3 linked regions of the Homo sapiens genome follow. The protein of the gene in region 1 purifies or fractionates together with the protein of each later gene. This does not show direct contact. Each region holds a gene or a part of one and is shown on either strand. Other genes may lie near its edges.

What was found.
Region 2: the proteins of KLRF1 (region 1) and REEP5 purify together in Homo sapiens (affinity purification with mass spectrometry; 3 studies listed by BioGRID and IntAct, with this or other methods). This does not show direct contact.
Region 3: the proteins of KLRF1 (region 1) and GAPDHS purify together in Homo sapiens (affinity purification with mass spectrometry; 3 studies listed by BioGRID and IntAct, with this or other methods). This does not show direct contact.

The regions. Positions count from the first base shown.
Region 1 is NC_000012.12:9,830,467-9,837,486, forward strand, and holds part of KLRF1 (killer cell lectin-like receptor subfamily F member 1), read left to right. Parts: intron 1-1,849; coding exon 1,850-1,948; intron 1,949-2,795; coding exon of another isoform or gene 2,796-2,812; exon of another isoform or gene 2,813-2,823; coding exon of another isoform or gene 2,824-2,836; coding exon 2,837-2,986; intron 2,987-7,020. UniProt on the Homo sapiens protein: Functions as an activating receptor involved in immunosurveillance upon binding to various ligands displayed at the surface of myeloid cells.
Region 2 is NC_000005.10:112,919,208-112,926,495, reverse strand, and holds the start of REEP5 (receptor expression-enhancing protein 5), read left to right. Parts: upstream 1-4,268; 5' UTR 4,269-4,305; coding exon 4,306-4,423; intron 4,424-5,239; coding exon 5,240-5,333; intron 5,334-7,288. UniProt on the Homo sapiens protein: Plays an essential role in heart function and development by regulating the organization and function of the sarcoplasmic reticulum in cardiomyocytes.
Region 3 is NC_000019.10:35,528,646-35,536,475, forward strand, and holds the start of GAPDHS (glyceraldehyde-3-phosphate dehydrogenase, testis-specific), read left to right. Parts: upstream 1-4,810; 5' UTR 4,811-4,882; coding exon 4,883-4,949; intron 4,950-7,830. UniProt on the Homo sapiens protein: May play an important role in regulating the switch between different pathways for energy production during spermiogenesis and in the spermatozoon. Required for sperm motility and male fertility.

The sequences.
Region 1 (7,020 bases):
TCTTTCTTTTTCTGGACTTAAGCAGAAAACCTTCTTTCAGTTTTCTCAATTGAATAAGATGTTAGCTTCATTAGACATAAAACTATTATGTTGAACAAGTATCTATTAATTTCTGTTTTTTAACATAAAGATATAAGATTTTATCAATTTCATTTTTTACATCTATTGAGATGATGATAGATTTTTTTCCTTAGCTTTATTAATATAATATTAATATGGATTTCCTCCTATTGAATAATCTTTATATTCCTAGAATAAACCAATCATGGTTATAATATATTTTGGTTGCTGATAATGTATTTACCATTTTTGTACAGACATTCATAAGACTGATTTTGGTTTTCCATTTTATTATTTCTGGTTTTGGGTGGTTAAAAGGCTTGTGTTTTAACCTTTATAAGTTAAATTAAACCATTTCCTTATAGGAGAAAACACAGGATAATGAAAGTTTTACTTTCTCCATTATTCAGCATCTTTTAAAATTTTTTTTTACTTTTATTTTTATTTTATTATTATTTTTTTGAGATGGAGTCTCGCTCTGTCGCCCAGGCTGGAGTGCAGTGGCGCGATCTCAGCTCACTACAACCTGTAGTGCTTAGGAGAAATAATTCAGTCTGAGTTGAATTTCAACCACCTTCCACAACTTTTTTTCCTAATGTTTTCTGATAATTATTTTTTAAGTTTTAAAATAAATATATGACTTTTTTAAGACACATGCTTGATTTCTTGGAATTTATTGCTTATCAATATTAATATATCAAAAATTCAAAAATAATCTCAGAAATGTGGAGTATTCATTAAATGAATTCTGATAAAATTATTTTAATATCTTTGACAATGTTATGATAAGAGAAACCCTGCGAACTATTTATCTAAAATATCATTCTATAGGGTTCATCATGTGCTTTCTTGACAGGGCTTGACAGCGTCAAATGTAGTTTCTCTATTTTCTCAGGTTTAAAGAGTATTTAGAATATAAATTTCAGCATTAATAATTCAATTTATTGACTGAACAATAAGAATAATTTCGGTTACAATAGAGGATTCTTATCAATTATTATGATAGATTTACATAAATTATCTTTGATAAGGACAAAATGTTTCACAAAGTATAGATATTCACTTATTCAGTATAACATAATTATTCATGTAATTTCGTAAGTCAGTGCCCAGCAGACCTAAATCCTCTGGATGAGACTCTCTACTGTCTGTCCAATGATAGCAGTTTCTTGAATAATAATCATTGAACAAGCACTCTTATCTTAAACCTGACAGTGTAAGTCTATGAAAAATAAAACAGTTCTTAAAAGTTTAGCATTTAATAAGAAGATGAAATATTATTCATGACTTACAAAGGATTTTAGGGTTTTTTTGATTAAAATAGCAGGATACCTAAAGCCATATTTAGTTCTGATTCATCCTTAGTAAATAAAAAAGGCTCAAAGGACTTGTAAATGTTATATTAATGATTAATCAGAAAGTGTTTATGTGGATACACATGTATTATCTGTAAATGCATGTGCATGTTCATGAGTGCGTGTGTCTCCGCAATGGTTGGAAAATTATTCAGTGCATAGAGTAAAATTCTTTCTACAAATTAATAATGTTAAATATTAGCAATTTCTTCAGATTTGATATGACACGTATCATAGCTTCTGACCATCCAGAGTGTTATCATTGTTAAATAAATGTATATATTTTTCTATTTACTTAGCCTTCATGCTTTTGATTGCCTAATATCTTTTGAAACCAAAACTAATATTTTATACAATCCTATTATTACAATTGCTATTGTATTACTTCCTGGAAGCATACTTTTCTAAACTAATTCATGTGATTAATGTCTCAGATTATTCAGTGACGTTGCACTGGTATAAAATCTTACTGGGAATATCTGGAACCGTGAATGGTATTCTCACTTTGACTTTGATCTCCTTGATCCTGTTGGGTAAGTTTAGAAGATCTTAATTAAATAAAAATATGAAAGATGTTTACTTGTCTCTTATAAATCTTTTTATAATTATTCATTCATTCTTCACTACATTAACCAAGATTGAATTAGAAGCTACTGCATGTAAAGCTCTATTAGTACACTCCACAGTGCTATATTTAATATGCAGTCAAATCAGGTAAGTATCTTGCCCTCAAGTGGCATACAGTCTAATACGGAGAAAGGAGTGTATGTGTAGAGTGTGTGTGTGTGTGTGTGTGTGTGTGTGTGTATGTGTGTGTATGTGTGGTATTTGAAACAGTTTTTCTGTGTTTCTTGGATACTTTAATAGATAAAATTTTACTGTTTTGCTTAAATATTTTAATACATTTTATCTAAGGTTGCATTTAGTTTGCTTTTCCTTTTGTCCAGCAAATATTCACCGAGCAGCTACAATACTCCAAATATTACAAATTCCCCAAAATTTTTAAGAAAAGAATAGTCAGGGTGAGGAATGTGATATTCTAGTGGGAGAAGCAGGTACTAAGTAATTATGGTACAATGTTCTGACTACAGTGTTGGAGGCTGCAGAAAAACATTAAGAAAGGATGAAAAGAGCCTATATACTTCCCAGAGCAGAAACTTGGCTTTATTTATTATTGTATTACCAGTTCGTAGGAATGCCTGGCATAGAATAGATTCTCACCAAATATGTGTTGTATAAATGAATTGATTGTATAATATTTTGAATTCTTTCCATCAGTAGACATGAAAATTTTAAAAAGATCCTAGTGACCGTTTCAATTATTTCTTGTTCCAATCATCGGAATCATTCCATTGAATGTGTCCCTGAAACATTCCATAGAGAAGATATTTACCTAACCTTAAAATAGTCCTGTATTCAAGTTTCTCAGGGAGTATTGCTAAAATGCCAAAAAGGAAGTTGTTCAAATGCCACTCAGTATGAGGACACTGGAGATCTAAAAGTGAATAATGGCACAAGAAGAAATATAAGTAATAAGGACCTTTGTGCTTCGAGATCTGCAGACCAGACAGGTATGTCTCAAGGCTTTGGCTTATCCTAGTTTTAATCTTTTGGACTCTCTAAATGTGAAGTATTTTTGAACAGGTATGCAATAGATTAAAGTAACAAGTAAAAGTTTGGTATAAGTCTACTTTTCATTCAAAACTCGATTTAGGTATCTTTAAACTTGTTGCAGTGGGAGAAAATGGTAAAACAACACAAGAAATAGGCTCTGCCCTCCAGGAATTTAAAATCCAGTTGATACATATAAATATGGAAAGTTAGTTGTTATTAAAAAGCAGTATGTAAATAGCCATTCTTGTTTGTCACTTATTTATTCTTCTTTTTCTGAAATACAGACTGGATAAAAGTCAATATTTTAAAAATTATTCATTATGATTTTAAGCTTAGACTTTTAAGCTTAGAAATTCCAGTCATACAGAATTTTGAAAACATTACCTTCTATTTTTAAATGTTTAACTTTTTTTTTTTTTTTTTTTTTTTTTGAGCAACAAGGCTGTTTATTTCACCTGGGTGCAGGCGGGCTGAGTCCGAAAAGAAGAGTCAGCGAAGGGGAGATAGGGGTGAGGCCGTTTTATAGGATTTGGGTAGGTAAAGGAAAATTACAGTCGAAGAGGGTAATTCTCTGGCAGGCAGGAGTGGGGGTCACAAGGTGCTCAGTGGGGGAGCTTTTTGAGCCACGATGAGCCAGGAGAAGGACTTTCACAAGGTAATGCCATCAGTTAAGGCAAGGACTGGCCATTTTCACTTCTTTTATGGTGGAATGTCATCAGTTAAGACAGGAACAAGCCATTTTCACTTCTTTTGTGATTCTTCAGTTACTTCAGGCCATCTGGGCGTATATACGTTCAGGTCACAGGGGATGCGATGGCTTAGCTTGGGCTCAGAGGCCTGACAGTCCTGCCTTCTTACAGTAATAAGAAAAATAACATAAAATAGTATTGAAGTGTTGGGGCAGCGAAAAAAAAATTTGGGTGCGGGGGGTAGCATGGAGAGATAATGGGCGATGTTTCTCAGGGCTTCTTCGAGCGGGATTAGGTGTGGCGTGGGAACCTAGAGTGGGAGAGGTCAACTTGCAGGAGGATTTTGTGGTAAGGGGTGATATTGTGGGGTTGTTGGAAGGAGCATTTGTTGTATAGAATGATTGGTGATGGCCTGGATACGGTTTTGGATGAATTGAGAAACTAAACGGCAGATACAAGGTCCGAATAAAAGAAGGAGAAAAATAGGTATTAAAGGACTAAGAATTGGGAGGACCCAGTACATCCAATTAGAGAGTGTCCAAGGGCGTTCAGCATAATTACTTGCTTGGTTGGCAAGTTTTTGGACCCTATCCTTGAGTTTTCTTATGTTGTCATACACCAGGCCAGATTGATTTAGGTAAAAACAACACTCTTCATTTAAGAATATACAGAGTCCTCCTTTTTCAGCAGTGAGTAAGTCAAGGCCTCGGTGGTTTTGGAGGATAACTGCAGCTAAAGAGTCAACTTGGGCCTGGAGGACTGATAAAGTTTGTGATATGTCTGTGATGCTAGCAGAGAAGACACTAGAGAGGCTATGGAAGGTCGTGACAGAGGTTGAAATGCCTCCTATTCCAGTACCGAGAGCAATAGTGGAGGCAGAAAGTCCTAAACCAACAAGCAAGGGAATTAGTGGAATAACTCTTTTTTGTCGTGTTGGTGTCATGAGGGGAACAGGGAGCTCTTCGGTCCTATTTGCAAATTGAATTTTGGGAGTAAGGAAAACTAGTGTGCATGTACCTGTCCAATTAGCAGGTAGACACATGGAGGTAGAGGATCCACAGAGGAAGAAGAGACCTTGTGCGAGGCAAAACTGGAGATGCAAAGTAAAAAGATGAGGAGTGCTGAAAGGGGTGTCTTGTACCCAGACTCCTGGGGATCCAGCTAGGGCGGCAGCCACCAGAGGTTGTAATGGGGACTGGTGGGGTAACTGCGTAGAGGGGGAGGTTCGATTTTCATGGTATATGAGAAAATGTTGAGTGTCTATGAGCTACCTTTCACTGTTATTTTCGGGGCTGGGTATAAGTAAACAAGAAGAGGGCCTGGGAGGAGGGTCTGATGAGCAAGGGGAAGGTAGCCGAGGATGGAGTGAAATACAGGGTAAGTGTCTTCCTAAGCAATAATTACTGCTAATATTTTTAAGTTTGCCAGTATTGATAGAGGGCTTTTCTGTAATACGGAGCTGGAAGGCTCCAATTGTTTCGGTGACATGCATAGCTGGACTTTGGAGATGAAGAGTAAAGGAACATGGAGAAGGTGAAGGGTTACTAGGGGAATTCCAGTGGGTCTTTGCCGAGAGATACATAAAGGAGTGGCCACAGGAATAGGAATAGTAGTTTGTGTTGTGAGAGGTCCAAATATGGGGGGAGTAGAGTTGATATAAGGAGAAAGGTTTTTTAAGTAAGTGTGGAGGAGGGCGGCAGCTTGCTGATATGAAATGTCTGGGGAGGTCTTGCTGGACCTGTCTAGAAAGTAAATGAGTTCTTCAGGAGGGTAAAGGTGAGGGCTGTTAAAGGAAGTTCAGAGGTATAGGGAGACAGATGTTGCCCAGTCTACATGTAAGGTGGGGGCAGCTGTGTAGGCGCTGGAAGAAAGGGAAATGCAAAGCCAGCAGTTGTTCAATAAGGAGAGATTAGAAATGGCTAGGAGAGAATAAGTAACGTTGGTAGTGTGGTGGAGATAGCTGGGGAGAGGTAGAGGGTGACATAAGAATGGGAATGATCCCTTCATTCTATTAGGTCTGTTTGTCCTTACCCTACTTTTTGCAACAGGGCTTTACGAAGTTACCCCCACTACTTGGACCGAGCCCCAAAAACTAGTCATCCCTACTATCTTCTGTCTAGTCATACTCCTATTCACCATTCTCAACTACTTATAAATGCCCTACTCTTGTTTACACTGCCGGTTTACACTGTTTTTCCAAGCCATCACAGCTGATATCTCTTGGTGCTATCCCCAAACCGCCAGTCTTAACTCCCTCTTAGAGTGGATAGGTGATCTTTGCTGGCAGGGGACCCTCCAATACTTCCACCCTGATGAAGTTCTATTCTTTACTTTTAAGTTTAACTTTTTGATACTTAACTGATCATTTTGACATTTGTTTTATTGTATGAGATGATATATTATGACTTTCCAGATAAATGTATAATTATTATAAAAGGATTTTTTTCTAATCTACTAGTTCGTATTTCCTCCTTTATCATACGTGAAAATTTTATATATTTTATGTTCTACTTATTGACACTGTCTTCATTTGGCTTATCTGTCTGTTTTACAGGTATATTTCCCAAACTAATAGATATTGTAGCTTTACCTCATATTTTATTGTCTCCCTATCTGTAATGTCTGTCACTGTGTTGGGTATCATTGCAATGACACCTTAGAAAAATTAAGGCGGCTTTGGTAGGTAAACATGGAATCATGTACATGGCAGTAAACATTAATTAAAGTAGGTATAAATACTGTATATTGAGCTACAATATATTTATTTCCTATTCCTTTTCTTAGCTGAGGTACAATTCAAAATTTGAACCTTTAAAAGTAAACAATTTCATGATGTTTAGAACCTTCAAACGTTGTGAACTACCATGTTTATCTAGTTGAAAAACTTTTCCCAAAAATAAATCCCTTACATACCCAACAAGCAAATCACTCTCCATTCTCTCTCCCCTTAGCCTCTGACAACTACAAATCTTCTTTCGGTCTATATGGATTTACCTATTCTGGATTTTCATGGAATAGAATCACACAATATTTGGCCTTGGGCTTCTTTCACTTAGCATAATGTTTTTAAAGTTCATCCACATTTTATTCCTTTTTATGGGTGAATAATAGTCCATTGTGCATGTATATCTATAAATATAGATACATATATACTTATATGTATCTCTATATCTATAAATACATATATATTTATATGTATCTCTATATCTATAAATATTTATAGTTTTATGTATATCTGTAAATATAGATATGCACAATGTTTGTGTGTGCAGAGCTTAAAGGTCAGCCAAAGGTGAGATCTT
Region 2 (7,288 bases), on another chromosome or scaffold:
TGAGATGGGCGGATCACTTGAGCTCACAAGTTTGAGGCCAGCCTGGGCAACATGGCAAAACTCCATCTCTACAAAAAAGTACAAGAATTAGCTGGGTGTGGTGGTGCACACCTGTAGTCCCAGCTACTTGGAAGGCTGAGGTGGGAGGATGGCGTAAGCCCAGGAGGTGGAGGTCAGTGAGCCAACATTGTGCACTGCACTTCAGCCTGGGTGATACAGTCAAACCTTGTCTAAAAAAAAAAAAAAAAAAAAAAAAAAATCAGGACCGGCACTGTGGCCACCTGTAATCCCAGCACTTTGGGAGGCTGAGGCAGGCAGATCACTTGAGGTCAGGAGTTCAAGACCAGCCTGGCCAACATGGTGAAACCCCATCTCTACAAAAAAATACAAAAATTAGCCAGGCGTGGTGGTGTGCACCTGTAGTCCCAGTTACTCAGGAGGCTGATGCACGAGAATCATTTGAACCTGGGAGGCTGAGGTTGCGGTGAGCCAAGATCATGCCACTGGACTCCAGTCTGGGTGACAGAGGCAGACTCCATCTCAAAAAAAAAAAAAAAATCAAATTATGAATCACTTTAAGTATTCAAAAACAACCCCAACTTAATATACATACTGTACTCAGTAGGAAATTATACAAACTCACAACTGGTTTGAAGTTTACAGTTCAGTTATTCTGCTAAGCAGCTGTACTAGTTTCCTAGGGCTGCTGTAACAGTCTCACAAACTGGGTAGCTTAAATAATAGAAATTGAGGCCAGGTGCAGTGGCTCATGCCTGCAGTCCCAGCACTTTGGGAGGCCAAGATGGGGAGATCACTTGAGGTCAGGAGTTTGAGACCAGTTTGGCCAGTGTGGTGAAACCCCATCTCTACAAAAAAAAAAAAAATTAGCTTGGCATGGTGGCACACACCTGTAGCCCCAGCTACTTGGGAGGCTGAGGTGGAAGAATTGCCTGAACCTGGGAGGTGGAGGTTGCAGTGAGTGGAGATTGTGTCACTGCAGTCCAGCCTGGGTGACCCAGTGAGACCCTGTCTCTAAATAAATAAATAAAACAGAAATTTATTATCTCACAGCTCTGGAGGCTGGAAGTCCAAGATCAAGGTCTCAGCAGGATTGGTTCCTTGTGAGGGTTGTGAGGGAATGATCTGTTCCAGGACTTTCTTCTTGGCTTGTAGATGGCCATCTTCTCCCTGTGTTTCTTCACAGTCTTCCCTTTATATGCATCTGTCTCCGTCCAAATTTCACCCCCCCTTTTTTTTTTGAGACAGAGTCTCGCTCTGTTGCCCAGGCCGGAGTGCATTGGCTTGATCTCGGCTCACTGCAAGCTCTGCCTTCTGGGTTCACACCATTCTCCTGCCTCAGCCTCTTGAGTATCTGGGACAACAGGTGCACGCCACCACGCCCGGCTAATTTTTTGTATTTTTAGTAGAAATGGGGTTTCACCGTGTTAGCAAGGATAGTCTCGATCTCCTGACCTCGTAATCCACCTGCCTCGGCCTCCAAAGTGCTAGGATTACAGGTGTGAGCCACCGCGCCTGGCCAAATTTCCCATTTTATAAGGACAACAGTCACACTGGATTGAGGTCCACCCTAAGGAGTTCATTTGAATTTGACTACCTCTTTGAAGACCCTATTACCAAATAAGATCACACTCTGAGGTACTGTAGGTTAGGATTCCAACATGTCTTCTTTAGGGAGGTAGAATACAATTCAACCCATAATAGCAATGTAATATAGGGGTAAGAGCCTGATTCTGAATTCTAGCTCTGCCACTTATTGTGATATGGGAACTCACTATGTCTCATTTTTTTTTTCCTTAAATGAGGATGAAACAGGTAGCATCTTCCTCATGCAGCTGTGAGGATTAAATGAACTAGTCCACGTAACACTTGGAATACTGGGTGGTACAACACATGTTAGATATTCATTCATTCATTAATTCAACAAATAGTTATTGAACAACTACTAAGTGCCAGGCACTGTTCAATGTGCTTAAAATATTGAAGCAAATAAAATAAGCAAAAATGTCTACCCTCACGGAGCTCATAATCTAGTGAGGAAAGAAAGATAATTTAAAAATAGAACATGGTCTGGCATGGTGGTGGCTCATACCTGTAATCCCAGAACTTTGGGAGGCCAAGGTGGGCAGATCACAGAGTTCAAGACTGGCCTGGGTAACATAGTGAAACCCCATCTATACTAAAAACAGAAAAAATTAGCCGGACATGGTGGCACACGGCTATGGTCCCAGCTACTTGGGAGGCTGAGGTGGGAGGATGGCTTGAGCACAGCAGGAGGTCGAGGCTGCGGTGAGCTGTGACCACGCCTCTGTACTCCAGCCTGCGTGACAGAGTGAGACAGTCTCAAAAAAAAAAAAAAAAAAGTAGAACATAATGCCAGACAGTAATAAATTCTATGGAGAAAAATCAAGCTAGAGACCACTGGGGGTTGCAATTTGAGATTAGGGGTACCATTTGAACAAATATCTGAATAATGGAAGGGGACAGTTAAATGGTTAACTGGGGAAAGATACTTTCAGATAGAGGAGGGTTTCTGGACTGTCACATTATTGACATTTGGGGCTGGATAATTCTTTGTTGTGGGGGCTGTCCTGTGTGTTACAGGATGTTTAGCAGCACCCCTAGTCTCTAACCACTAGATGCTAGTTGCACTTGCCACCTCCTGCTCTCCTTGTGTGACAATCTGTTTCACAACGAAAGTATCTCTAGACATTGCTACTCCTCCCCCCAGGAGGAAGAAGGGGAGAGGAAGTGCTCCTGGTTGAGAACCACTGAAATAGAAGAAAAGTGAACGAACGCCCAGAGGCAGGAATGGGCTTACCTTGTCTGAGGCACAGCAAGGAGGGAGGCAGTAAGGGAAGACATCAGAAAGGGGAGGGATGAACCATGTCACCTGTGACCCTGATGCCCTCCTTCAGGCAGATAGGAAGTTGCTGGAGGGTTGAGAACAAAAACATAGCACAACTTGACGCACATTTTAAAACAGATTCTACTGTCTGCCACATTGAGAATTAACTGTAGGTGAAAAGACAGAAGTAGACAGCAGGTTGTTTCACTTGTTCACTGATTTGGCTGGGTGGTGGTAGGAACAGCTGAGAAAGCTGAGCTAAGAAGCTCTGAGGAAGAAAGGAGGAAGGAGAATTAGCATAAAAGGAAAAAGCTAGGCGTGGGCAAGATAACTTTTTGCAGAAGTGGAAGGCAGTAGGGTAATTAAGTAGATTTGAAAGCACAGAGGGGTTGTGTAGGACCAAGACAGAATGTTCGGGGCCAGTTGTGGGCAGGGCATTGAATGCTCTGCCAAGGAATGGGAGCTCTAGTCTGTTAGGATAATAATACGGAGCTTCGGACAAAAATTCTGCAGCAGTGTGCAGAATAGGAGTCAACAAGAGTAATTTTAGGAGTGTCTGGAAGTCATATGGGTGAGATAAGAGGAGCCTAGGTTTAGGTGGAGGAAGAGCATGGCCAACTCATTCTGAAGGAAGCAAAAATGAGCTCCTGCCCTAAGGCTTGGACCTTAGAATCTCCGTCTTCTTCAGAGTATTTTGACTGTAGGAAGTGCAGAGTATATTGGCTCCACAGAGAGAATTTGGACACTTGCCACAGTATCAGACACCAAGACAACGCAAGCCCACCATGAAAAGATTTAATGCAGTTTTTGCTTGGAAAAGGTGTACCCCAGGGAGGATGTGTTAGATTTCTTCAAGGGTCTTTACAAGGCAACGATTGTCTGTAGGTGAGAAAAACTGCCAAGTTAAGGCAAAGAGGGAGAAAGCAGGACTGCTTCCAAAGAGTTCTTTCACGATGCTCAAACATTTCAATTTTTTAGGTCAAAAATGCCTTAGGTTTAGCACAGCAATGTAGGTGCCAAACTCATCGCAGTGAATTGCAGGCGGGAGCAACAAGGACGCCTGCCTCCTTTCTGCCTGCTTTTTGCAATAGTCCGATTTGAGAAGGGGACCCACGAGAGACACAAAATGCACGCCCCCACGCCACATCCTTTTTACCCCGCAATGGGTTAAGACTGTCAACAGGCAGGCCACCTCGCAGCGTCCGCGGAGTTGCAGGCCCGCCCCCGCCAGGGTGTGGCGCTGTCCCCCTGGCGCTGGGCGGGGGAGGAGGGGCGCGCGGCGGCCGAGGAGGGGCGCGCGGCGGCCGGGCGGGGCGAGCGGAGGCGAGTGGAGGACGCGTAGACGCGCCGCGGTCCCCGCCTGCCGCTGCTCCGCCGCAGTCGCCGCTCCAGTCTATCCGGCACTAGGAACAGCCCCGAGCGGCGAGACGGTCCCCGCCATGTCTGCGGCCATGAGGGAGAGGTTCGACCGGTTCCTGCACGAGAAGAACTGCATGACTGACCTTCTGGCCAAGCTCGAGGCCAAAACCGGCGTGAACAGGAGCTTCATCGCTCTTGGTGGGTGGCCGGGGGTCGCCGCCGCTGGTAGGGCCACGGGAGCCGCCGCTGCCCCAGCTGCTGGGGAAGGAAGCAGGGAGAGGACTCGGGAAAGGTGGAGTCGGAGACAGACGGGACAAGCAGCATATTCAGGGATCAGGCTGGCCTCCCGGAAAGCGTGGGCATCGGAGGACCCCGCGGGGGCTGCCCAGGCTGAGGGTCGCGGGGCTGGAGGGCAGCTGCGGCGCCGGGCGCTGGCAGCTGGAAGGGCCAGCGCTGACGTATGTCTGCCCCGCGGCCCGGCGCCCTATTCCTGCTGTCCTGCGCGGTGGGCGCGGACGGCGGGGCCCCTGCGGGCGGGCGCGTTGACGGAGGTACCCGGTCCTACCCGACCCTCCGTGGAGCTCCGCCCGGAGAGGGCGCCTCTCGGGTGGGCGGGGGCTGCTACTGCAGCGTGTGCGGGAGTCCGGGCCTCTCGGGACGCTCCCCGCTGAGCGCAGCTTCCCAGGCTGGAGCGCTGCCCAGCAGGCCCTGCGAGAGGGCGGAAGCGGGTGCCTGGGACCGTCCCGGGCGCCGGGGGTTGCTGCGCAAAGCGCCGGGGCCCCCTGCGGGAGGTAGGAGAGGCACAATGGTGGGGCTGCCTGGTATCCCCAGACTTCAAGGCATAGCCCAGCGGACGCGCAGGCCCAGCTTTCGTGTGGTTTGTTTTTCTCGCTCCTTTAATCGAGTCGAGAGGAAAACTCCTACAACAGGCCCAGCCTCGCGGTGTGGGCGGCGGCTGTCCCGCGTGAACGGCTCTCATGCTGCCCGACCCACTTCTCTCCTTGTGGTCCCCAGGTGTCATCGGACTGGTGGCCTTGTACCTGGTGTTCGGTTATGGAGCCTCTCTCCTCTGCAACCTGATAGGATTTGGCTACCCAGCCTACATCTCGTAAGTGACACACCCTGCAGCCGTCCCCTTCCCTTCCTCCATTCCTCCCCGCAGGGCTGCTGCAGTAGACTGCACATCCGCAATTCCCGGGAGAAAAGTGAAAGCTCGGCGGGGAGGGATGAGGTTGGACATAAGGGGTGGGGATAGTATTCACCATTTTGGAACCTTAACTTAATCCCTATCTCTTGACGATTAGCCCAGAGGTATTTTCATTAGATTATCCTGGTGACCAGTGTCCCCTCTCTTTGGCACACTAACAGGAAAGCGCTACCACTCTGTCGTCCTCCCTTTACTGGTGGGAGGATCTCAGAAGGTACAGGGAGCTGAGCACTTCTGTCTAGTAATTATTTTAATGAGTATTTCACCATATATTTATGCACCTAGAGAGTAAAACCCTATCAATTAGGTCTTCCTTAATTCATAATTACGTTAATTGAGACAGTAGGGAGAATTTTCTCATTTTCTTTTATTTTGAAAAAGCCACATGTTACAGACAAACTTGGGAAATGCTTACCCTAGTGTAAAAACAAAAACCTTTAAAAATGCTCCATGATATAGCTCCTTGGTTATATAAGTGAGTCATTTATATAATTGAGCTACTTAAAAAATGAATTTTTACGATTAGGATCTGAATTTATTACCAAAGTTGTTTTTATTCTACAATGTGTTTATTTTTTTTAATTCTACGATTTTATTTTTCCATTCGTTCAAGTAGGAATTATTCCTCTCCAGAAATGAATTTTGTTTTGCTCTACAGTTCTTCCTAAGAAAGCCAGTGGTTTTTACCTTCATTCAGTTGGTCTCTGCTACTTTCTTCAACCATAGGGATAAAAATAAAGGAAGAAAAAATTTTCACCTAGGAGGCTAAGACACAGATAACACATTATTACAGCTTGTATCTGTCACTAGTTAGGCTAGAATTTAGTCTATGACTATAAGGGAAGAAACATGTTTTAGAAGTTAGTTCTGATTTGAGCAATTAAATTGCAGTTACCTAGTAGTTGTTACTGTGTTAGTCCGGTACAGACACTTAGTCATACTCCAGAAAGTCTAGCTACATATAGCCCTGAGGCCTACCCCGGGCTCTGCTTTATGGAGGAGACTCAAGGAAAAACGGGATTGTGTGCACAGAATAAAGCATACAGACCCCCGTGAGCAAATATTCAGGCGGTCGGTGTTACATTAGTCTAATCAAGTCTGTTCATTGCATAACCAATATGATTGTATAATTGTCCAAAAGAAAGAAAAAGTATTTGAAAATGGTGGTCTTTAGTAGCATCAAAATCCATGTTGCTTAAAGTGTGACCTGTGAACACTGTCTTAGTCTGCTTGGGCTGCTATAACAAAATACCTTAGACTGGATAATTTATAAACAATAGAAATTTATTGCTCACAGTTCTGGAGGCTGGGAAATCCAGGACCAAGGCACCAGCAGATTTGGTGTCCGGTGAGGGCTTGCTCCCTGCTTCAAAGATGGCATCTTCTCACTGCTTCCTCACATGGTAGAAGGGTCAACTGGCTCCCTCAAGCCTCTTTTATAAGGACACGAATCCCATGCATGAGGGCAGAGCTCTCATGCCTGTTTCTTTTCTTTTGAGACAGAGTCTCGCTCTATATTGCCCAGGCTGGAGTGCAGTGTCGTAATCTCAGTTCACTGCAACCGCCATCCCTGGCCGCCCCCACCCCCGCCAAATTCAAGCAATTCTCCTGCCTCAGCCTCCCTAGTAGCTGGGATTACAGGCGTGTGCCACCACGCCTGAGTAATTTTAGTATTTTTAGTAGAGATGCGGTTTTGCCATGTTAGCCAGGCTGATCTTGAACTCCTGACCTCAGGTGATCCACCTGTCTCAGCCTCCCAAAGTACTGGGATTACAGGCGTGAGCTACCACACCTGGCCAAGCCCTCATGTCTTAATTGCCTCCTAAAGGCACCACTATTTAATACTAATACATTGG
Region 3 (7,830 bases), on another chromosome or scaffold:
TCTTCAACACCTCACTCCTCTCAGGCATCTAAGCCTCCAGCTCCCCAGGCAGTGAGGGGCTAGAATGATGGGAGGCACCGTCTGGAGAGGGGAGAACACTAGGTGGGATGAAGGAGTCATCAGACCTCGTTCTTGTGGGCCAGCCCCTGCCCTCACTCATTCCATTCCAGCCACACAGGCCTTCTCCCTGTTCCACAAACACACCAAGCTCATTCCTGCTGCAGGGCCTTTGCACATGCTCCTCTCTCTGCCTGGAATGCAGAACCCAGATCTTCACGTGGCTGGCTCCTCCTCATCCGTACTTGACTTAAATGCCAACTTCGCAAGAAAACCTCTCCTGACCATAACATGGCATTAATTATACTCTGTAGTATCACCCTTTTGTTTTCACAGAAAAAAAAAATCTGAAATTACCTTTATTTTTTATTGCCTGTCTCACCTACTAGCAATGTAAATTGGTCGTGTTGATCACTGCTGTATTCCTAGCTTCTTGAACACTGCCTGGGGTTCAGTAAATATTTATTGACTGGACAAATGGATGGATTCGAACAGGCCAAGGAAAGAGACTCCGAGCCCGAGTCTGGGTCTCACAGGGTGCTGGAGGGAAGGGCGCCTGGGTCGCCAGGGCAGCATAGAGTCCCTTGTGGAGTGCCGCAGATTTTGGAGGCAGGATCCCATTCCTGTCGCAGAACCCAGACCTCCTGCCTCCCAGCCCTTGGGCAAGGGCAGGGGGCTGATTGCCACGAGCTGGAACAGGACGCAGTGTCTCCTGAAAAGCCGGTTGAGGCAGCCACGGGGAGGGGCCGAAGACCCAGGGCAGCAGGAGCCTGTGAGCCAGAACCTGGGCTGGGGCCAGGCCCTCATCCTTCCTGCCCTCCCGACATGGGGCCTCCTAAGCCCCAACCTGAAGCCCCAAGTGTTGACATATTGGCTCGGGTTGGAGGGGAAACAGCTGAGAGTCTGGCCTCAGGCATGAAAAGGGCATCGGAAGGAAGGGCAGGTGGTGGTGGGCAGGCTTGGGGCAGCAGATGCATCTAGAAGCCAGTTGGGAGGGAGGCTAAGACCAGAACGAGAGCCAGTGGGTGGGTACAGTAGGTGCAGGGGTGAAAGATATTTGGGTTTTGGTGCCAAGGGGAGAGACTGAGAGAGGGGTGGAGGTGGGATTGCTGGTGGGAAGGCCAGGCAGGAACAATGTGCAGGGTGTGAGCAGCTGGAGGTGGCAGAGCTATGTGTGTGGGTGCCCAGGTGTGGCGAGAATCTGCACGTGTTTTCAGGCTTTGCTCAAACAAAGGCGCCAAGGCCCACTCCCCTCAGAGGACCCGGGGTTCCTCTCCAGCTCCTGGACACTTGACTCCACCCAAAGACAGGCATCCCAGGACAGATATCCAGAAGCTTCTGCCTTCTCTGGGCTCTGCCTATAGAGGGTGACTAAGTGTGCCACCTCTCCAAGCTTGAGCTCATCAAATCTGTTTCCCGGTTTCACACTCCAGGGACAAAGCCAAATTCCTGGGCAAACTCAGGTGTGGTTTTTCTGCCCTGGTCCAGGGCCGAAATGATGGAGTTTCCCATACCAGGAGGTGGCTGGGCAGAGAAGAGTGGGTGATGAGTGTCAGAATCCTAACCCACCCAGAGATCAAGAGGTGGGATTTCTCCCACTTTGAACTGTGTTCCATCTTCTTTTTGTGTTTTTGGAGGGAGAGTCTCACTCTATCCCCCAGGCTGGCATGCAGTGGCATGATCTCGGCTCACTGCAACCTCCGCCTCCCGGGTTCAAGTGATTCTTCTGCCTCAGCCTCCCGAGTAGCTGGGATTAGCCGGGCACCTGCCATGATGCCCAGCTAATTTTTGTACTTTCAGTAGAGACGGGGTTTCACCATGTTGGCCAGGCTGGTCTCGAACCCCTGACCTCAGGTGATCCGCCCACCTCGGCCTCCCCAAGGGCAGGGATTACAGGCGTGAGCCACTGTGCCTGGCCTGAACTGTGTTCCATCTTCTCTATCCCTCTCCACCCCATCCTTTCATCTTCTGCCAGCCTCAGTCCCTCTCCTCTGTCTCTCTATTCCCATGTGGCACGATTCGATTCAGGACTTCAGCATCTGGCTCCATAACTGAGAATGGCCTGGAGTTGTCCTTTCTTTATTTTATTTATTTTTTTTATGAAGTATCACTCTGTTGCCCAGGTTGGAGTGCAGTGGCAATCTCGGCTCACTGCAACCTCCGCCTCCCAGGTTCAAGTGATTCGCCTGCCTCAGCCTCCCGAGTAGCTAGGATTACAGATGCATGCCACTACACCTGGCTAATTTTTGTATTTTTAGTAGAGATGGAGTTTCACCATGTTGGCCAGGCTGGTCTCAAACTCCTGACCTCAGGTGGTCTACCTGCCTCGGCCTCCCAAAGTGCTGGGATTACATGTGTGAGCCACTGCACCCAGCCAAAATCAGCCCCTTTTGAATCCTGGTTTTGTTGAGGTTATATTTTTCACCTCCTTGATTGTACACCAAAATGTAGCTCCCTTTGTTTAATTAATCATCTGTGTTTTGGTCTCGGTTCGTTAAAACCTCCTCACCTGTACACTTAGTTTACTTTCTTCTCCCAGGCCATCAAAGCAGGAGAGCCTCACCCTGCCCTGGTCCCATGGCAGGTGCTTGGCAAATGAATTTCTCATGGATGTTGGCGGAAGGAAGAGGTTATGTCATTCTGCCCCTTCTTGCATCCATCCCTCTCTGGGATGGTGACTCCTTCCTGGCACAAACCCCCACTCCCCCTGAACCTTGGTCACAGCTGCGTGTCAACCTGCTGTGCAGGTGATGGTGCCTGCCTGTGAGTCACTGAGGTGCAAGCAAACCCCTACCCCGGGGCTGCAGGGGAGGGAGCTGTTTGTCCACTTGTTCTTTGTCAGACGTTCATTGAAAACCTGCTTTGTATTGTTCTAAGTGCTGGAGGCACAGTCGTGAACAAACAAACAAGAACAGGAGCCCTGTGAGGGGCTTAGAGCCCAAGGGGGAGACATCGAACAAATAAACCAATCAGTAGATCATGACAAACTACATGAAAAGCTACAAGGAAAAGAATGGGTGCTGCGAGAAGATATAACGTGAAGAGTTTGATAAGATTGGCGATCAGGGCCGGGCGAGGTGGTTCACGCCTGTAATCCCACCACTTTGGGAGGCCGAGGCAGATGGATCACCTGAGGTCAGGAGTTTGAGATCAGCCTGGCCAACATGGTGAAACCCCGTCTCTACTAAAAATACAAAAACAAAAAAAAAATTAGCTAGGTGTAGTGGCGCACGCCTGTAGTCCCAGCTACTCAGGAGGCTGAGGCGGGAGAATCACTTGAACCCAGGAGGCGGAGGTTGCGGTGAGCTGAGATCGCACCATTGCACTCCAGCCTAGGCAACAAGAGCGAAACTCTGTCTCAAAAAAAAGAAAAGAAAAGAAAAGATTAGCGATCAGATGAAACCTGAGGAATTGACATTTATTCATTCAGGTATAGTTTATTGGGCTAACGCCTTTTTCAGACAGGGTCTTGCTCTGTCTCCCAGCTGGAGTGCAGTGACACAATCACAGCTCACTGCAGCCTTGACCTCCTAGGCTCAAGTGATCCTCCCACCTCAGCCTCCCTAATAATTGGGACAACAGGCATGCACCACCACACCTGGCTACTTTTTTTATTTTTTGTAGATACAGGGTTTTGCCACATTGCCCATGTTGGTCTCAAACTCCTGGACTCAAATGATCCTCCCACCTCAGCCTCCCAAAGTGTTGGGATTACAGGCATGAGCCACTGCGTCCAGCCCACAAACACCTTTCAGGTGCCAAACACTTTTCTTGTCAATGGGATACAGAAGTGACATAGATGACGTCCCTGTCCTCTCAGAGCTTACAGTCTGGTGGACAGAGACAGTTGGCAAGAAAACAAACAATTTTTAGAGAGACATGTGCTCTAAGGAAAATAAAAACATAGACAGTGTAGCCCTAGAGAAATTTTGCACACTGAAGCATAACTCAGAATGGAGAAGTCAGACAAGGCTTCCTGGAAGATGGGCAGAAATTGGGAAGGGGGTGACGGCTGACAGTGACAGAGAAAGGAGGGAACTTAGATGCAGAGTGTAGAAAGCCTCTCTTAAAGGGTGGGAAACCAAGAGGCAGCCAAGGGAAGCCCTGGGTGGGCCTTCCAGGCATACGGAGGCAGCAAGAGTCACTCCACTGGAGAATCCAAGGGACAGCATGGAACCTGTGTGCTTCAAGAGACAGAGAAGAGGAAAGGGCTTTCAGGAACAGTGTAAAAGGTGGGATTCCAGGCTGGGTGTGGTGGCTCGCTCCTGTAATCCCAGCATTTTGGAAGGCCGAGGTGGGAGGATCGCTTGAGCCCAAGGGTTCTAGACCAGCCTGAGCAAAAGAGTGAGACCCTCTCTCTACAAAAAAATAAAAAGTAAAAATAGCCTGCAGTGGTGGCTGCACATGTAGTCCCAGCTACTCAGGAGGCCGAGGCGGGAGGATCGCTTGAGCCCAGGAGTTCAAGGCTGCAGTGAGCCATGATTGCACCACTGCACTCCAGCCTAGGAGAAAGAGTGACACCCCGTCTCAAAATAAATAAACAAATGATAATTTTAAAAAGTGGGATTCCATTCCAGACGGCAGTGCGTGGCCGTGGAACGGTGATGCATAGCGTGCTGACGTCCCATGCCTCTACGGGGATGGGATGCGATGGTGTCAGGCCTCTGGCTTGGGCGCCGCCCCTCGGCGACGTCACTGGGTACTGTGACGTCACTGGGTGCTGTGACATCAGGGCAATTAGCCCAGGACCCACAGCCCTGGCGCTCCGCACGCACCTCGGTAACATCACAGCAGGTCCAGGCCAATGATAACCTTATAAGAGGCCATGTCGAAGCGCGACATCGTCCTCACCAATGTCACCGTTGTCCAGTTGCTGCGACAGCCGTGCCCGGGTGAGGGAGGCAGCGGAGGGCGCGGGGGAGGGGTGGAAAGGGTAGTGGGGAGCGTCTGCACCCTCACACCTGTGCCGTATCCCTACCGCCCTTCCTGGCGTGTGCACCATCTAGGGACCAGGGGATCAGCCGCTCTCCCTCCCTCCACACCCGCCAGTGTGCTGGCAGAGTGGGGTTTACTGCCATGGCGGGGAGACCGGGCCTCCGCCCCCAGGGCTGGGTGGGCTTCGCGCCGCTATCACGCGGTAGAAAGAGCAGAAACGAGGGCCATCGGAGGCTGCAGCCTGAAAGTGGCGGGAAGTGGGCGGGCTTAGGAGGGGCTTAGGGAGAACCCAGGGGTGCTGGGCTTCCATGTAAAAGTGATGTTCATGGCGCTTCGCGTGAGGTGAGCTTTGCCCTCCCTGTGATGCACAAAACAAGGACACTTGGAACCTTGCCGGGGACGTGCTGACCACTTCGCAGGCGAGAGCTCAGGGAAGCCTCACCACCACCTGAGAAGGCCAGAGTGTGCCCGCAGTTTACAGAGCGGCCAACAGAGGTTAAGAGAGGGCAAACTACTTCCTTAGTCTCTCAACAAGGGCGGCGCGCCCGCGCGCGCGCACACACACACACACACACTCACTCACTCACTCTAGCCGGAGGAACCAGGTCTTCCGGTGGGCTGCCTCCATTCCCACACTGTTCCCTCACTTCCCAAGGGCGGGGGCCGCAGGGGTAGGTGGGGCTGGGGCTTTGGTCCAGGAGACCCTGGAAGACACAGGAGCAGACAGGCTTACCAGCCTCATGAGACTTGAACCCCTGCCCTGCGCATCACTGCTCCGTGGCCTCAGGCTTCATTTTCCCCTCTGTAAAGTGGGTTTATAGCGCATGCCTCTCGGGATTCAGTGGGAGGACGCAGTGAGGAGCTGGGGGCAGCACCCAGCTAGCCCCCAGGCTTTTCTCCAACCGGGGGACCCCACCCCTACAGTGGAGGGGAAGAGAGTGCAAGGCTGGGAGTGCTGGGAGAGGAGGACCATCTGAGTTTTCTTCGGAAGGGTCACCCATTGGGCTCAGATTCCCACCTGAACCAGGTGGACAAATCCCCTTTCTCCCATAGCAGAAACAACCCCCAAGGATGCAAACATCCTCAAGTTCACCAATAAACACTAACACCTTCATGAACTTGGACAGCCACTGGAAACACCTATAGTCCAGCCTCAGGCCACAAGGTCTGTGGCAACAGGGAGAGGTCAGGGAGACAGACAGGCCAGCTGGCCCCCGGCTCCCAGCCCCACCACCCCCCAGGTGCCTTTGATTTGGTGCCAAAAACTTGGACTCCCACTACCCCCTTCCAGCCCTTCTCCACCCCCTGCTGTCTCCCTTTCCTCAGGAATCTGTGTAGGATCAGACTTCCCTCCTCTATTAAAATCAGCTCCTATGTGTGGGCCTCGAGATCTCACTGCGCCCTCACAGCAGCCCCTAGGTGGGGGATCAGCCCCAAGAGGTTCATTAACTTGCTCAAATCCACAGAGCAGCAGGTCTGTGTGGACTGAGCCAGGCTTGACTTTCCAGCTTGAAACTCTCTGCCACCAGGTCCCCTGAGTCTCCACTTCTCCCCTCTTCTCAAGCCCTCCTCTGTAGCTCAGGCGGCTGCTACCTCCAGGCGCAGGTGTTTTTAAGTGCAGTCTGGGAGCAGGAGTGTGTGTGGAGAGGTGGGAGCCAATGTGAGCTTCCATGGGTTTCACAGAGTATGATACACGGTACTCTCTAAGCTTCCCTGAGGATAAGAAATGCCTGGAGTGCTTATTTTATTTTTTATTTTTTTTTGGGAGATGGAGTTTCGCTCTTGTTGCCCAGGCTGGAGTGCAGTGGCACGATCTCGCCCACCACAACCTCCGCCTCCTGGGTTCAAGCGATTCTCCTGCTTCAGCCTCCTGAGTAGCTGGGATTACAAGCATGTGCCACCACGCCTGGCTAATTTTTTTGTATTTTTAGTAGAGACGGGGTTTCTGCATGTTGGTCAGACTGGTCTCAAACTCCCAACCTCAGGTGATCTGCCTGCCTCGGCCTCCCAAAGTGCTGGGATTACAGGCGTGAGCCACCGCTCCCGGCCTGGAGTGCTGATTAAAAACAGGATTTCTGGGCCTCCATACAGACCCACTGAGTCCGATTTTTCTAGGAAGAGCCCTCCTCAGGTGATTTTTTTTTTTTTTTGAGACAGAGTCTCACTCTGTCGCCCAGGCTGGAGTGCAGTGGCGCAATCTCGGCTCACTGCACCCTCCGCCTCCCAGGTTCAAGAGATTCTCTTGCCTCAGCCCCCCGAGGAGCTGGGATTACAGTATTTTTAGTAGAGAACAGGTTTCTCCATGTTGGCCAAGCTGGTCTTGAACTCCTGACCTCAAGTGATCCACCCACCTTGGCCTCCCAAAGTGCCAGGATTACAGGTGTGAGCCACCACGCCTGGCCACTCCGACGACTCCTATCATGGAACAGTTTGGGGACCACTGGGCTAAATCAATTATTGGACAAATTCGGGGAACAATCTACAAAATACTAATGCATGTCAAACATTTCCTCGGCTTGGTCATAAGCAATCCATGTATTACCTCATTTAATCCTCACAACAACCCTCTAAGAAAAGTACTATTATCTCCCCTTACAGAGGAGGAAACTGAGGCACAGAGAATGTCACCCCAAGCGATCTATGTTGAAAGTACATACCCCGGCCAGGCGCAGTGGCTCACACCTGTAATCCCAGCACTTTGGGAGGCTGAGGCGGGTGGATCACCTAAGGTCAGGAGTTCGAGACCAGCCTGGCCAAGTGAAACCCTGTATCTACTAAAAATACAAAAATTAGCCAGGCACCTTGGCGGGTGCTTATAATCCCAGCTACTCGGGAGGC